Linked DNA regions of Homo sapiens. The protein of the gene in region 2 interacts with the protein of the main gene of each other region in a biochemical or structural test. Each region holds a gene or a part of one and is shown on either strand. Other genes may lie near its edges.

The links. The genes of interacting proteins can lie anywhere in the genome.
Region 1: the proteins of FGF7 (region 2) and HSPG2 form a complex in vitro, tested with the Homo sapiens proteins (one study listed by BioGRID).

Annotation. Positions count from the first base shown.
Region 1 is NC_000001.11:21,822,311-21,829,310, reverse strand, and holds part of HSPG2 (basement membrane-specific heparan sulfate proteoglycan core protein isoform b precursor), read left to right. Parts: intron 1-231; coding exon 232-476; intron 477-884; coding exon 885-1,056; intron 1,057-1,158; coding exon 1,159-1,281; intron 1,282-1,391; coding exon 1,392-1,448; intron 1,449-4,085; exon of another isoform or gene 4,086-4,531; coding exon 4,532-4,607; exon of another isoform or gene 4,608-4,695; coding exon 4,696-4,774; exon of another isoform or gene 4,775-4,934; coding exon 4,935-5,005; exon of another isoform or gene 5,006-5,106; coding exon 5,107-5,190; exon of another isoform or gene 5,191-5,591; coding exon 5,592-5,695; exon of another isoform or gene 5,696-5,822; coding exon 5,823-5,995; 3' UTR 5,996-7,000. UniProt on the Homo sapiens protein: Integral component of basement membranes. Component of the glomerular basement membrane (GBM), responsible for the fixed negative electrostatic membrane charge, and which provides a barrier which is both size- and charge-selective.
Region 2 is NC_000015.10:49,418,379-49,426,241, reverse strand, and holds the start of FGF7 (fibroblast growth factor 7 precursor), read right to left. Parts: upstream 3,001-7,863; 5' UTR 2,802-3,000; intron 2,211-2,801; 5' UTR 1,945-2,210; coding exon 1,659-1,944; intron 1-1,658. UniProt on the Homo sapiens protein: Plays an important role in the regulation of embryonic development, cell proliferation and cell differentiation. Required for normal branching morphogenesis. Growth factor active on keratinocytes.

The DNA.
Region 1 (7,000 bases), on a different chromosome or scaffold from region 2:
GGAGGCATGGGAGGATAAATGCAGGGATCAGGGCAAGTCCCCTCTTCCTGTGCATTTCGTCTCTGTGTCACTTGAGGCCAATCCCTAGCCCTCTCTGAGCCATGGGCTCCTCATCTGGAATACAGAAGGCTGTAGGGCATTCCCCATCTGCTCAGGGCCCTGTTTGTGGTGGAGAGGGCAGGGAGCCCCGTGTGCCCCCATGTGCCCAACCCTGCCTGGCATCCTCCCCAGGGCTGGCCGTTCTGCGGAGCGCCGAGCCGCTGGCCCTGGGCCGCTGGCACCGTGTGTCTGCAGAGCGTCTCAACAAGGACGGCAGCCTGCGGGTGAATGGTGGACGCCCTGTGCTGCGCTCCTCGCCCGGCAAGAGCCAGGGCCTCAACCTGCACACCCTGCTCTACCTGGGGGGTGTGGAGCCTTCCGTGCCACTGTCCCCGGCCACCAACATGAGCGCTCACTTCCGCGGCTGTGTGGGCGAGGTAAGAGCAGCCTCCTCGGGACAAGCGGGAGGGGAGGGGTGCCAAGCCTTGTGTCCCCCTCGGCTCTCCAAGCACCTTGGCATTGGGCCCCTCCACCTGCAGCCACCCACGGGCCCTGGGCCAGGACACTGTACCTCTGAGCCTCAGTTTCCTCCTCTGTAAAATGGGCATGATCACACCTACTTTGAAAGGTTGGGCAGAGGATTGTCTGCACTGACGGATGAATGTTTCTAGCACACAGTAGGCACTCAACTCCTGCGCCTCCCTCCCCACACCGAGAATCCATGCTACCACTCAGGGCCCAATGTGGGCTCCCAGCTCCCCTCTGCTGCATTCTTCTCCCTGCTGGTACACCTGGGTCTCTGCCTCCCAGGCCCCTTTAGTCCCTCGGTGTCCCTGTCCCCACAGGTGTCAGTGAATGGCAAACGGCTGGACCTCACCTACAGTTTCCTAGGCAGCCAGGGCATCGGGCAATGCTATGATAGCTCCCCATGTGAGCGCCAGCCTTGCCAACATGGTGCCACGTGCATGCCCGCTGGCGAGTATGAGTTCCAGTGCCTGTGTCGAGATGGATTCAAAGGTGGGAAAGCCTGCCCAGGGCACCGGAGGGGAGGGGCACAGGTGGTCAGCGACACCTCCAGCCCATGCCCACCCACCCACTCGCCTCTGCCCTGGCCCACAGGAGACCTGTGTGAGCACGAGGAGAACCCCTGCCAGCTCCGTGAACCCTGTCTGCATGGGGGCACCTGCCAGGGCACCCGCTGCCTCTGCCTCCCTGGCTTCTCTGGCCCACGCTGCCAACAAGGTACCCAGGCCTGGCTTCTCTCCACTTCATCTCTGTCTTGGGGCCCCGGAGCTCGACATAGTACCCACGGGTGTCTATGCCCACCAACTGGACCCTGCCCTTCTCCATAGGCTCTGGACATGGCATAGCAGAGTCCGACTGGCATCTTGAAGGCAGCGGGGGCAATGGTGAGTACTTGCCATGGCCTCCTCCCCAGCTTCAGCTCAGCTCACTCTTCCAGTTACCCCACACCCTCAATTCTGGCCTGCAAGCAAAACAGCTTTATATGAGGAGCTTGCTGGGCAGAGAGACAGAATGAAGACCACAGCCATGTGGAGCTAGGGCCTGCCCCACACTTACTGGCTGGGTGACCTTGGGCAGGCCTTTGAAACCACTCTGACCTCAGTTTCCTCCTCTGTATTCATGTATTCAGTCAACAAACTATTGTTGCCCATCCTTGCCCTGAGAGCAGTAAATATAAGATGCATAAAGCAAGACCCTCATTCCCAAGAATTCCACCGTCTACTGAAAAGCTAAGGAAACAGTGAAGAGTGAATGCTGATTGAATGTTTACGGACACTGTGCTAACCCCTTTACAGACACATCTCTTCTTATGTATCACTAATATAATAGGCGAGGCAGTGGTATAGTGGGTAAGAGTATAGACTTGGAGCCAGCCTGCTTGGGTTCAAATCCTAGCTCTCCCACTTACTAGCTGTGGAACTTTGGGTGAGTCGCTTAACCTCTCTGTGCCTCATATAAAATGGAGATGAGTAACATCTTTCCCTAAAGATTTGGATAAAATTTTATGTGAGAGTAAAATTACTTAGTGCATTTTTTTTTAAGGTGGAGTCTTGCTCTTTCACCCAGGCTGGAGTGCAGTGGCACAATCTCGGCTCACTGCAACCCCCGCCTCCCAGACTCAAGCGATTCTGCTGCCTCAGCTTCCTGAGTAGCTGGGATTACAGGTGCCTGCCACCACACCCCGCTAATTTTTGTATTTTTTGTAGGGATGGGGTTTCACCATGTTGGCCAGGCCTGTCTCTAACTCCTGACCTCAGGTGATCCGCCCCCCTTGGCTTCCTAAAGTGCTGGATTACAGGCGTAAGCCACCGTCCTAAAGTGCTGGATTACAGGCATAAGCCACCGCGCCCGGCCACTTAGTGCATTTTAAATGCCTAGAACAATGTGTGGTACAGAGTCAGTACAGAATGTTAGCTGTTGTTAATATTATGTTCAGCTGGCCGGGCACACTGGCTCACGCCTGTAATCCCAGCACTTTAGGAAGCTGAAGCGGGCAGATCACCTGAGGTTGGGAATTTGAGACCAGCCTGACCAACATGGAGAAACCCCATCTCTACTAAAAATACAAAATTAGCTGGGCGTGGTGGCACATGCCTATAATCCCAGCTACTCCGGAGGCTGAGGCAGGAGAATCGCTTGAACCTGGGAGGTGGAGGTTGCCATGAGCCAAGATTGCATGCACCATTGCACTCCAGCCTGGGCAACAAGAGCGAAACTCCCTCTCAAAAAAAAATACTATATTCAGCTGGGTATGGTGACTCACGCCTATAATCCCAGCACTTTGGGAGGCTGTGGCGGGCAGATTGCTTGAGCCCAGGAGTTCCAGACCAGCCTGGGCAACAAGGCGAAATCCTGTCTCTACAAAAAAATACAAAAAGTAGCTGGGCATGGTGGTGCTCATCTATGGTCCCAGCTACTCAGGAGACAGGCAGGAGGATTGCTTGAGCCCAGGAGTTCAAGATCAACCTGGGCAACACAGGGAGACCTCATCTCTACAAGAAATTTAAGAATTAGCTGGGTGTGGTGGCACATGGCTATGGTCCCAGCTGAGGCAGAAGGATCACTTGAGCCCAGGAGGTCGAGGCTGTAGTGAGCTACAATTGTGTCACTGCACTCTAGCCTGGGCAACAGACTGAGACCCTGTCTCAAAAAAATAAAAAATAAGGCTGGGTGCGGTGGCTCACACCTGTCATCCCAGCACTTTGGGAGGACAAGGTGGGTGGATCACCTGAGATCAGTTCGAGACCAGCCTGGCCAACATGGCGAAACCCCATCTCTACTAAAAATACAAAAATTAGCCAGGTGTGGTGGTGCACACCTGTAGTCCCAGCTACTCGGGAGGCCAAGGCAGGAGAATTGCTTGAACCTGGGAGGTGGGGGTTGTAGTGAACCAAGATTGTGCCACTGCACTCCAGCCTGGGCCACGGAGCGAGACTCCATCTCAAAAATAAATAAATAAAATAAAAATTATCTATATATAATATTCATTCATAGGGTTGTTGTAAGGATTGAGTTAAATGCAGTGGTGTCTGTAGCTGGATGGGACGCTCCCCGCACAGCCACATCATAGGTGTTAGGTAAATGTCAGCCGTTCTCCTCATCATTTGGTGGAGGGTAGCAGAGGGTCCCCTACTCTTGTCCCCTGCCAGAGCTACTGTGGCCAGTGCCGGCCTGTGGGATGGGTCATGAGCAGATAGGGCTGGGGGGGTGTGGAGCCACACACAGTATGGACATCCTGGGCCAGTCACTCGCCCAAGCCTGCCTGCTCTTCTGTAAGATGGAGAGAACACCAAGGCTCTGAACCATTTATTGCCACAGTCCAAGGTGACCAACGGTCCCAGTAGCTCCGGACTGAGGGGTTTCTTGGGATGTGGGACTTTCAGGGCTAAAGCCAGACAGAATTTGGCAAGTAGAATGGCGGGTCACCCGACACGGATCCTGTTGACTACACAAAATAAAATAAAATAAAATACATTGATTTAAGGAAAGCAATTATGCTGAAGTAAAGTAATCAAAACATGTTTTAAGTTTCCTGACTTGCTATATATGTGCTTCTTTATTAACACATCAAATAACAAGATCTGGTGATCTCAGTAGCTACCACAATTTCAAAGCAGCAATATGTGTAAATGATATTTTGAAATATTTGCAGCTACTGTCATGTGATAAGCAAATACTAGTAACAAAGTTGCAGGTCCTACCACTGCTACTTTGGTTTCTTGCCTACATCTCATTGAAAGAACTGCTCAATTTCAGTGAGAAGTGAGTGAAATTGAGGTGTAATGCTTTCCCATCCAAGGTCATAGGCTCCCTGAATTCTGTTGGCAGCCCCCGTGGGTCCCCAGGGACTGCAGGCTCGGAGCCCCCTAGTCCTGCATGTTGGCGTGGAGGTGGGGGTCAGGGGAACTGACGGGGGATTTTGATGCCTGATGCAGCAGGTATGGCACCACCCTCCTCTCTCCCACAGATGCCCCTGGGCAGTACGGAGCCTATTTCCACGATGATGGCTTCCTCGCCTTCCCTGGCCATGTCTTCTCCAGGAGGTGAGACTGGCATTGGAAGGGCCCATGGGCCTAATGGGGAGGATGGGAATCTGGGACTTCTGTCCCCTCACCCGCTCTTCCTCCGCAGCCTGCCCGAGGTGCCCGAGACCATCGAGCTGGAGGTTCGGACCAGCACAGCCAGTGGCCTCCTGCTCTGGCAGGGTGTGGTGAGTGTGGGTATCCGGCTGGGCTCTTGGGGCTCCTGGGGCAGGAAGCTGGCTTCCTGGTGGCCGGAGTGGTGGGGGGAGGGGAAAGCAGAGCCCCCTGGCCTCGGCAGCCTCTGCTCTCCAGGCTGGGGACCCCAGAGACCCTGTGCTTCCCTGGCAGGAGGTGGGAGAGGCCGGCCAAGGCAAGGACTTCATCAGCCTCGGGCTTCAAGACGGGCACCTTGTCTTCAGGTAGGTCCTGGCACCTGGCCCTTCCTCTCCCTTCCCTGGTCCCAGCACCCCACCCCCCGGTCCTGCCCCAGCTCATACTTCTTGGGCCTGGATGACTGCAGGTACCAGCTGGGTAGTGGGGAGGCCCGCCTGGTCTCTGAGGACCCCATCAATGACGGCGAGTGGCACCGGGTGACAGCACTGCGGTAAGGGACCCTGCCGGGCACTCGGGATGGGGCCCAGCGTTCTGGAGTGGGGCAGGACGCCCCCTACCATGGGCAGAGAGGCAGGTATTGAGCTCTGTGGAGACAGAACTTGAAGCCAGGGGAGGGGAGAACCCACCAGCCAGGGCTCGGGCTTCCATCTCGGACTGAACTCCGCTGGGGGCAGGCGAGTGCCCCAGGAGTGGGAGGAAACCTGGGTGCAGAAATGAGGAAGCTGTGTTTGTGGGGCCCGATCTCTCGTTCAGCGGGGGAAAGAAAGAGCTTGGGAAACAGGGACAGACTTCTGAGTCTGGAGTCTCGATATCAGAGGGAGGGGACTCTGTCGTGGGGCCGGGGAGGACCAGGAAGTTTGTGGAAAGGGGCCTGACCCAGTTCCACTGCAGGGAGGGCCGCAGAGGTTCCATCCAAGTCGACGGTGAGGAGCTGGTCAGCGGCCGGTCCCCAGGTCCCAACGTGGCAGTCAACGCCAAGGGCAGCGTCTACATCGGTAAGTCTGGGGCTCCTTCTCAGGGCAGGGGCAGGAACGGCACTCCCTTAGGGCTAGAGCTCGCCCAGCCTTCCTCGCCTCCTGGGCTGCTGGAGCCCACAGGCCCTGTCCTCTCACCTCCCGGCAGGCGGAGCCCCTGACGTGGCCACGCTGACCGGGGGCAGATTCTCCTCAGGCATCACAGGCTGTGTCAAGAACCTGGTGCTGCACTCGGCCCGACCCGGCGCCCCGCCCCCACAGCCCCTGGACCTGCAGCACCGCGCCCAGGCCGGGGCCAACACACGCCCCTGCCCCTCGTAGGCACCTGCCTGCCCCACACGGACTCCCGGGCCACGCCCCAGCCCGACAATGTCGAGTATATTATTATTAATATTATTATGAATTTTTGTAAGAAACCGAGGCGATGCCACGCTTTGCTGCTACCGCCCTGGGCTGGACTGGAGGTGGGCATGCCACCCTCACACACACAGCTGGGCAAAGCCACAAGGCTGGCCAGCAAGGCAGGTTGGATGGGAGTGGGCACCTCAGAAAGTCACCAGGACTTGGGGTCAGGAACAGTGGCTGGGTGGGCCCAGAACTGCCCCCACTGTCCCCCTACCCACCGATGGAGCCCCCAGATAGAGCTGGGTGGCCTGTTTCTGCAGCCCTTGGGCAGTTCTCACTCCTAGGAGAGCCAACCTCGGCTTGTGGGCTGGTGCCCCACAGCTACCTGAGACGGGCATCGCAGGAGTCTCTGCCACCCACTCAGGATTGGGAATTGTCTTTAGTGCCGGCTGTGGAGCAAAAGGCAGCTCACCCCTGGGCAGGCGGTCCCCATCCCCACCAGCTCGTTTTTCAGCACCCCCACCCACCTCCACCCAGCCCCTGGCACCTCCTCTGGCAGACTCCCCCTCCTACCACGTCCTCCTGGCCTGCATTCCCACCCCCTCCTGCCAGCACACAGCCTGGGGTCCCTCCCTCAGGGGCTGTAAGGGAAGGCCCACCCCAACTCTTACCAGGAGCTGCTACAGGCAGAGCCCAGCACTGATAGGGCCCCGCCCACCGGGCCCCGCCCACCCCAGGCCACATCCCCACCCATCTGGAAGTGAAGGCCCAGGGACTCCTCCAACAGACAACGGACGGACGGATGCCGCTGGTGCTCAGGAAGAGCTAGTGCCTTAGGTGGGGGAAGGCAGGACTCACGACTGAGAGAGAGAGGAGGGGGATATGACCACCCTGCCCCATCTGCAGGAGCCTGAAGATCCAGCTCAAGTGCCATCCTGCCAGTGGCCCCCAGACTGTGGGGTTGGGACGCCTGGCCTCTGT
Region 2 (7,863 bases):
CTATAAGAACTGGAAAGTATCATGGAAATCATCTGTACCTATCCCACATTTTATAGATGAAAAATTGAGGGTCAGAAAAACAAAGAAATTGTCCCCAGATCATTCGTAGACAGGGAGTTGCCCCATGTGTCATAATTTTTACCTAGGCTCTGTCGTCTCCACCAGGTTTTATTATCCATGATATTATTATTGATATATATTATCCATGATAATATATAATATTGTTATTATATCCATGATATTATCCATGATAAATCTGAGCAACTTTTAAATAAATTAATTATAAGCCAAATTCTGTTGCTTATATAGAAGTAGATATCAAAAAAATTTTCTCCAAATAGTCATTTCCTTAGATAAACTTTAGTATAATAAGAATGATCTTCTAGAACTAACATGATACCTTTATTAATCTCAGTAATAATAATAAATAATAATAATAAAACCATAACTGTCCAGTCATTAAAATGGCCTTAACATTCTATATCAATTATGGTTAAAAAGAAGGTCTTCTCATTTTCATATTGGAAACATAATTCTCTGAAATTCCCATTGATTGGTTGATTAGTTCAGAACCCTAAAAGTCATTCAGTAAACAGGCAACAAAAGTTTGAGTAATTGCTGCAAGCCTGGCACTGTGATTTGCACATGTTTACACCAGTCTCCCCATGCATTCTTTTTCAAATGACTTTAAAACAATTAATATGAAATTATATATTAATAACAATGTTTTCTGAGTGCTAGTAATGTAAACAAAATTTATTTTTACTAAGTATTTTAAATCCTTAATGTACATGTTGAGGTGTGTATCTTATTCCATTACATTTAATACTATTGAAGTTGGTTATTCATCATAACCATTAAATGCAAAACACAACCCTGATATTTTAACATAAGAAGAATAACTGATTCTTGGGAAAAATGTAAGGCTTTAAATTGAAAAACATGGAATTACCATCTCTTCCAGCCCACTTTTTTCCCCTCACCTTTACATTTTTCTTAAGATAGCACAGAACTTTTATGACATAAAAGATTTAGTTAAGGAAAACGTTAGGAGAGATCTGTTTTTCTGCCTAAGTTGATAAGTCATCAACTTAATACAAGCTCATTATGACTCAAATGAATAAGGATACCACAGATTCCCTTCTATTTTATCATTATACACAATTGCAAAGGAATGCATATCTTAGCACAGATTAAGTATTTTAATTTACATCATGAAAATATTATTTCAAAGAAAATCAAATTAATAAAAATAATTTCCCTACTCTTTAAACTAGTGATAAATAGCTTTTAGTGATAATTTATGAAGTTCTAAATTAGATATCTTAATGAGTTTTGCTTAGACAATATTAAGTCACATTTTGGTGTGAATAATATTATTTACATTTTGCTTAACTTATGAGCATTTTCAGGACAAGGAGTATATATTTTCAAATTGGCTTGGATTATCAGGTCCAACTATAATGTAAGTAGATTTGCCCTGTTAAAAGAGATATTTTTAGGGGCATAGTTCAACATAGTTCAATTTAGAGAAATTAGGTGACATTTTATTTAATTTTTTTTCCAAGAAGCAAAAGGAAGATGAGAAAACATATCACCTGAAAATTGATCCATTAACAGATTGCTAAGGTTCATGAGCAGTACTTAAAATTACTTACTGTAATTATTCTTCATCTCTTGGGTCCCTTTTACTTTGCCTCTTTTATCGATCCTCAGGTACCACTGTGTTCGACAGAAGAGTCTTCTCACTCTTATATCCCCTCCTTCCATGTAATCATAACTTCTTGTGTGTCGCTCAGGGCTGGAACAGTTCACATTTGTAGCCATTTGCTCTGGAGTCATGTCATTGCAAGCTAAAGATATAGTACCCACTAGACAGATAATGTGAAAGCATGATCTGTAGAGCAAAGTTGGCAGGATCCATGTCAGTATCCATTTGTGCATTATAGTGTAGTGCTCCGGGTGTTCATGAATAACATAATGAAAATGAATCTTGAGTTGATTGTTACTCCTAGGTCATTGACCTCTTCCTATCTGTGAATTGTAGATTGATTTAAGAAAGAGTAGTTGCTCTTTCCAAATTGTTAGCCTTATCCTTTTAGTTCCTGATAACAACACAGGATTCCTCCTTAAATAACTCTGTTGATAAATCCTCATAAAAACAGTTCGTAGTAAGTTCAGTTGCTGTGACGCTGTTTGCTATTTGACTTCTGTTTGCAATGAGAGATTAAGAATAGGGAGGGGAGGAGAGAGGAAGATAAAAAATTGTATGTGTAAATTTTAGTGGGTAAGTAGTAGCATTAGAATACAGTATAGGTTATTCTTTGAAGATACATTTAAAACAGCCTTCACAGAGGATGTCAAAATCTTTACCACTTTATGTGTAGATTTATAAAATTTATGCATGAGTAGAGACAAAACAGAATATGACTGTACCATTCATTCCAATTGCTATTTTGTGAGAACCATACTGCACTCAGAACTATTGATTTAAATTAAGTTTTTACAATTACTGCTAACAAAGTGTAACTGCTTTCTCCCTAGACTTCTTTATTATATGCTTTTACATTTGTGGTTAATCAATTATTTTCTCCTGAACTGCCCAGGTTTTTTAAGTTAAATGTCAGGATTGCTCTGGAGAACTTCAACCTTATCTTTATGTTCTACAGCATAATTACTATAGTTACATGGCTCAAAAATCTTGTAACTTTACTTTCCTGCTCAGTACTAAAATCAGAAAAAGAGATAAACTTTTAGAAAACATTCAGCATTGTTTTAAAAGACAAATAACAGTAACTTACTTGTTTTGTTGCTAACAGCTGGATATATAAGAATTCCATGTCTGTTGTCTGCCTGGTGCAACTTGAGCCTTTCTACTGTAGCTACAAACTATTTCTCAGCTGAAAAGTTCTCCAGCAGAATCATAATTGTTTCCATAAATCAACAGGCAGAAGGATTTTCTCTCTGTGTGTGAGCGCGTGTGTGCTTGTGTGTGTGTGTGAGCCTTTTATTCAGGGCTTTTCGATAAATACCTTTGCTGACCTCATTGGAAGCAATTAAAACTTAGCCAGTGAGCTGTTAGTTGAATACAACAGCGAGAATAAAAGGAGGCTTGTATAGTATTCAATGGTCATGAGAGGGAGCTATGAACATGTTTTATGCTTAAATCTACAAGTGGGTACCTACTTTGTAGAAACAGATCTCTGGTTCTGAAGCAGTTAGAAGGGGAAAGGGAATTTTTTAAACCTTCTTTGCAATATAGCAGTTGTATTATACTTGGAAAATTATTCATTTGAACATATATATAGGGTTTTTTAATACTTAGAAAATCTTTTCCATAGCTTTATGATACATGCATTTCTTCAATTACTTCTTTGTGCTCAGAATGTTAGAACAAAACTGGTATGTGTTAACTAACATATGAGTGCCTTAAAGCACTGTGTAGATAAGTTGAATATTATCACATCATACAGAGACAATTCATTGAATATGAATATAAGTACAATTTTTATGTATTATATTCCTAGGCTGAAAGTGAGAAGATCTAGATTCTTATTTGTGTTGGACCACTAATGACCAGTATGACTTCGGGCAAGTTACCTGCTGTTCCAGAGTCTCAGCTGCTACATTTGTAAAATTGGTGTATTGGTCTAATGCCTCTATGGTGCTTTACAATTCTGTGATCTGTGACTTATACTCACTACTAATATAAGGAACAGGGCACCTACTTTTAAAAGCTGTTATTCTTTAAAAAGGAGGAAATGGTTTCACATTGATTATCAGTGTTTGATTTTTGCCTCAATAAGAATATTGGAACAATAAATGTTAATTTAGAGATGGAATTATAATATGTATTGCTAAGGTAAATAAGTGAAAGCTATTTTACTTTCCAGCATGAGTTCTCTCCTTTACTTCCTGTTCTGTTATACATGAAGTAGTGCTCAAGTGTTGTATTAGATTCTTGGTGTAGAATAATTGTGTTGTCTATCTAAATCAGTATTAAGAAAGTATATTAAAATTATCTTTTTCATGTTATATACTCCTCAAAACACACACGCGTGCACGCGCGCGCGCGCGCACACACACACACACACACTCTCTCTCTCTCTCTCTCTCTCTCTATGTGAAATGCACTACTTTACCACCAGGTGGTGCATGTAGACCAAATAGGAAAAGGAAATTAAATCTACTCAACTGGATTATAGTTTATGTGATTTCTCTTTGTATCTGTCCCTTTAGGGAACAGAATGAAGAGCACAGAATAGTTCAGATGTACCCAGTTACTCTTCATATGCCAAATGTTGAATGTTCCACATTTATTAAAGCAGAGGGGGACAGACTCTTTGATCATTGCATCTGTTGAAAGCTAGAAAGCTGAAAACATCCTATCATGTATTCTCTAAAAGGAGGAAGAGAAGGAGGAAAGAAAATATAATGTTATTGTGTTCTGAATCACACTCCGCTAGTTTGGGAGGTAACAATAATGAGCAGGCTCAGAATTCCTAGGACTTAGATATTGCTTCTAAAGAAATAAAAGTTATCAATAGTAAGTTTACAGTGTAAAGATATTCAAGAGCTACTAAATCCATTTGTTCCATACTGAACCTACAGTTTTTAAACCAAGAAATCAGTAAGTGAGAAGTCCACATTTGCTAACTAAGTGCTAAATACTTAAATGAAAGAAATGGATAGTTTGTTAGCAAAGAGTGCTTAGTGCCTCCTTAATATCTGCTACATAGGATTAACTGTAAAATGGGAAACAAAAGAATAAAATTGTGATCTATGAAAGTGCATTAGATGCTATTACACTCTGTAATTTGGAAATATGATCCAAGTAATATTAATGAACAGATTAATATCAACAAGGGAACTGTATCAATGGTTTAAATTCTTTGATTATCATTTTTATTGGAGAATTATTAATTCAGGATGGGCCCACAATTCATTAGGACCACAGCTATAATGGAGAACCAAACTTAGATTTCACTGTGCCCTTATTATGCTTATGCTTCTAAATGAATTCTCCAGGAACTAAGAATAACTTTAGGCAACTGTAGATGGGGTAACCCTCTGGATGTTTTAAGTTATACATTGGCAACCGTTTGTTGCTCTTGTTTTAATAGACCTATAGTGATAGATTAAGCACAGGAATACTTTGAACTATTGTCTTTTTTTTGTTATTTGTAGATTGAATTTTCTTTTTTAACACACCATTGCTGGCTTCAAAGAATTAACTGGCCCAGCATGGTGGCTCACGCCTGTAATCCCAGCACTTTGGGAGGCCGAGGCGGATGGATCACAAAGTCAGGAGATCGAGACCATCCTGGCTAACACAGTGAAACCCCGTCTCTACTAAAAATACAAAAAAATTAGCCGGGCATGGTAGCGGGCGCCTGTAGTCCCAGCTACTCGGGAGGCTGAGGCAGGAAAATGGTGTGAACCTGGGAAGCAGAGCTTGCAGTGAGCAGAGATCGCACAACTGCACTCCAGCCTAGGTGACAAAGCGAGACTCCATCTGAAAAAGAAAAACAAAACTTTGCCTCGTTCATAATCATGTATAATATAATCAGTAGAAGGGAACATAATTAAATATTTTCATTACTTTTCATTCTTACATCTTATTCTGTTCCATATCCTGTCAGTTTTCATTCTTCCCCAAAACATAGATAATTCTTTTTATTAGTTTCTTGTGTATCTTTTCAGAGTTTCGCTATGCTTGTACAGGCAAACTGGATACATATGTTTGTGTGTATATGTATATACACATACATATTATTTTTTACTTTTACCCTTTTTATACAAAAGGTAGCACGTCATATGCATTTTTTTGTATTTTTTTTTAACAGAAAAATCTTCCTATCTCATTATTTAGGAAGCTTCTCACATTTTTGTTTTTGTTATAGCTACAGGGTATTCCACCGAATGGGTATATCACAGTGTATTTGAGCAGCCTCCTATTGAGGAACATTTAATTTTCTTCAGTACTTTTCTATTACCAAAGAAATGCTGTAATGAATAAAGACAAAATATGTCATTTTATACTACGAAAATAAATCTATAGGATCAATTTCCAGAAGTAGACTGCCTGGGACAAAAGGTATTAAAAAAAAGATATTGCCAACTTATCCTCCACAGAGGTTGTGCTAGTTTTATAATCCCACCAGCAGTAGGTAAGAGTACTCATTTATTTCAAAAAATTTATTGTGAAAACATTTGGAGTTTTATTAGTCTGACAAGTGAAAATGCCATTAAATTGTAGTTATCCTTTGCATTTCTCTTCTTATGAGAGAAGGTAACCATCATGGACAAGTGCTACAAAGAAAAGATACATAGTGCCATGAGTATCTATAATAAGTGGCAATATGTAAGCTTTCCCTGCAAGAATTCCACTAAAGCTGCAACTTTACAGCATGAATGGGAGTTAACCAGGTGAAGAGGTACTATACAAAAATAAAAAATAAAAAAATAATAATAATAAAAAAACCTGTCCTTTTCACAGTGAAACACAGGTTTGGTCCCAGTAGAGAGAATGAGAAGGGACTGTGGTGCATGAAGAGGTTGGAGAGGCAGGCAGGATCTCCATGTGTTTTATTAAGGCATATGATCTGTATTCCAGGAGCAATAGGAAGCCATTATAATATGGTAAGCAGAAGAGTGACATGATCAGAATTTTACTCTGCCTCTGTTCTGGTCAAAACTTAATTCCTATTGGCAGAATGGGCTTATGAAATATTAAACTGTGTTCATTTATCCCATTTTTTTCTGTTCTTCATATTTTCAAAAAGATATTGGAAAGGAAAGGTTGAGGGAAAAAAGTCATAAATGCTTCCTGACTAGGGTAAAACATGAATCCCTTTCAAAAGGTCATGCCAAGCGCACTGAAAATAAAGGAAGCACTAGAGTGCATTTGAGAAGCAGCCCAGGGAAGCTATCACAGAGTCCCATGGACCTGGGAGCATAGAGAAAATTTATGGCCCCCATATTTGGGGAGCCATGCTTGTATATTTATCTGTACACAGCACCACCGCACATAGCAGAGGCAGCAATACTCCAGAGAATCAGGGCTGCCTCATGTGTCTGAACAAATAGGTCCATAAGGACCCCTCATAAACATTCCCATATTTTAAAATAATTCTGGAAGTAGGAGGGAGTTCAGAACTGTAGAAACTGTGTGAACAGAGTGAATGAATACCCCAGAAGAGGAATCAGGGTAGACGAATGACTCAACACCCAGATGCCTTAGCTTTGGCCATACATAAAACTCTTGAAATCTATCCCATCTTGAAACAGAAGAGGGAAACCCTAGAATAACTGAAGTTAAGTTTTTTACCAAACTGGAAGAGCAGAATTCTCAAAATTAAAGCTAGGTTGATTTATATTTATAAATATAAATTTATATGTTATTCTTTGCATATCTGAAATTGTGGTCCAACACATATTTCTTTTTTTTTCTTTTTTTGATCTTTTAGGTTCAGGGGTACATGTGCAGATTTGTTATACAGGTAAACTCATGTCACAAGGGTTCAGTGTACAGATTATCACCGAAGCACTAAGCATAGTACCTGATAGTTATATTTTCTCTTCCCTCCCTCCACCCTCAAGTGGACCCCAGTATCTGTTGTTCTCTGTTTGTGTCCATTTGTTCTCACTACTTAGCTCTATTTATAAGTGGGAGAATATGATATTTGATTTGCTGTTCCTGTGTTAGTTTGCTAAGGATAATGGCCTCCAGCTCCATCCACGTTCCTGCAAAGGACATGATGGCTGCAAAGTATTCCATAGTCTATATGTACCACATTTTCTTTATCCAGTCTACCATTGAGGGCATTTAGATTGATTCCATATCTTTGCTATTGTGAATAG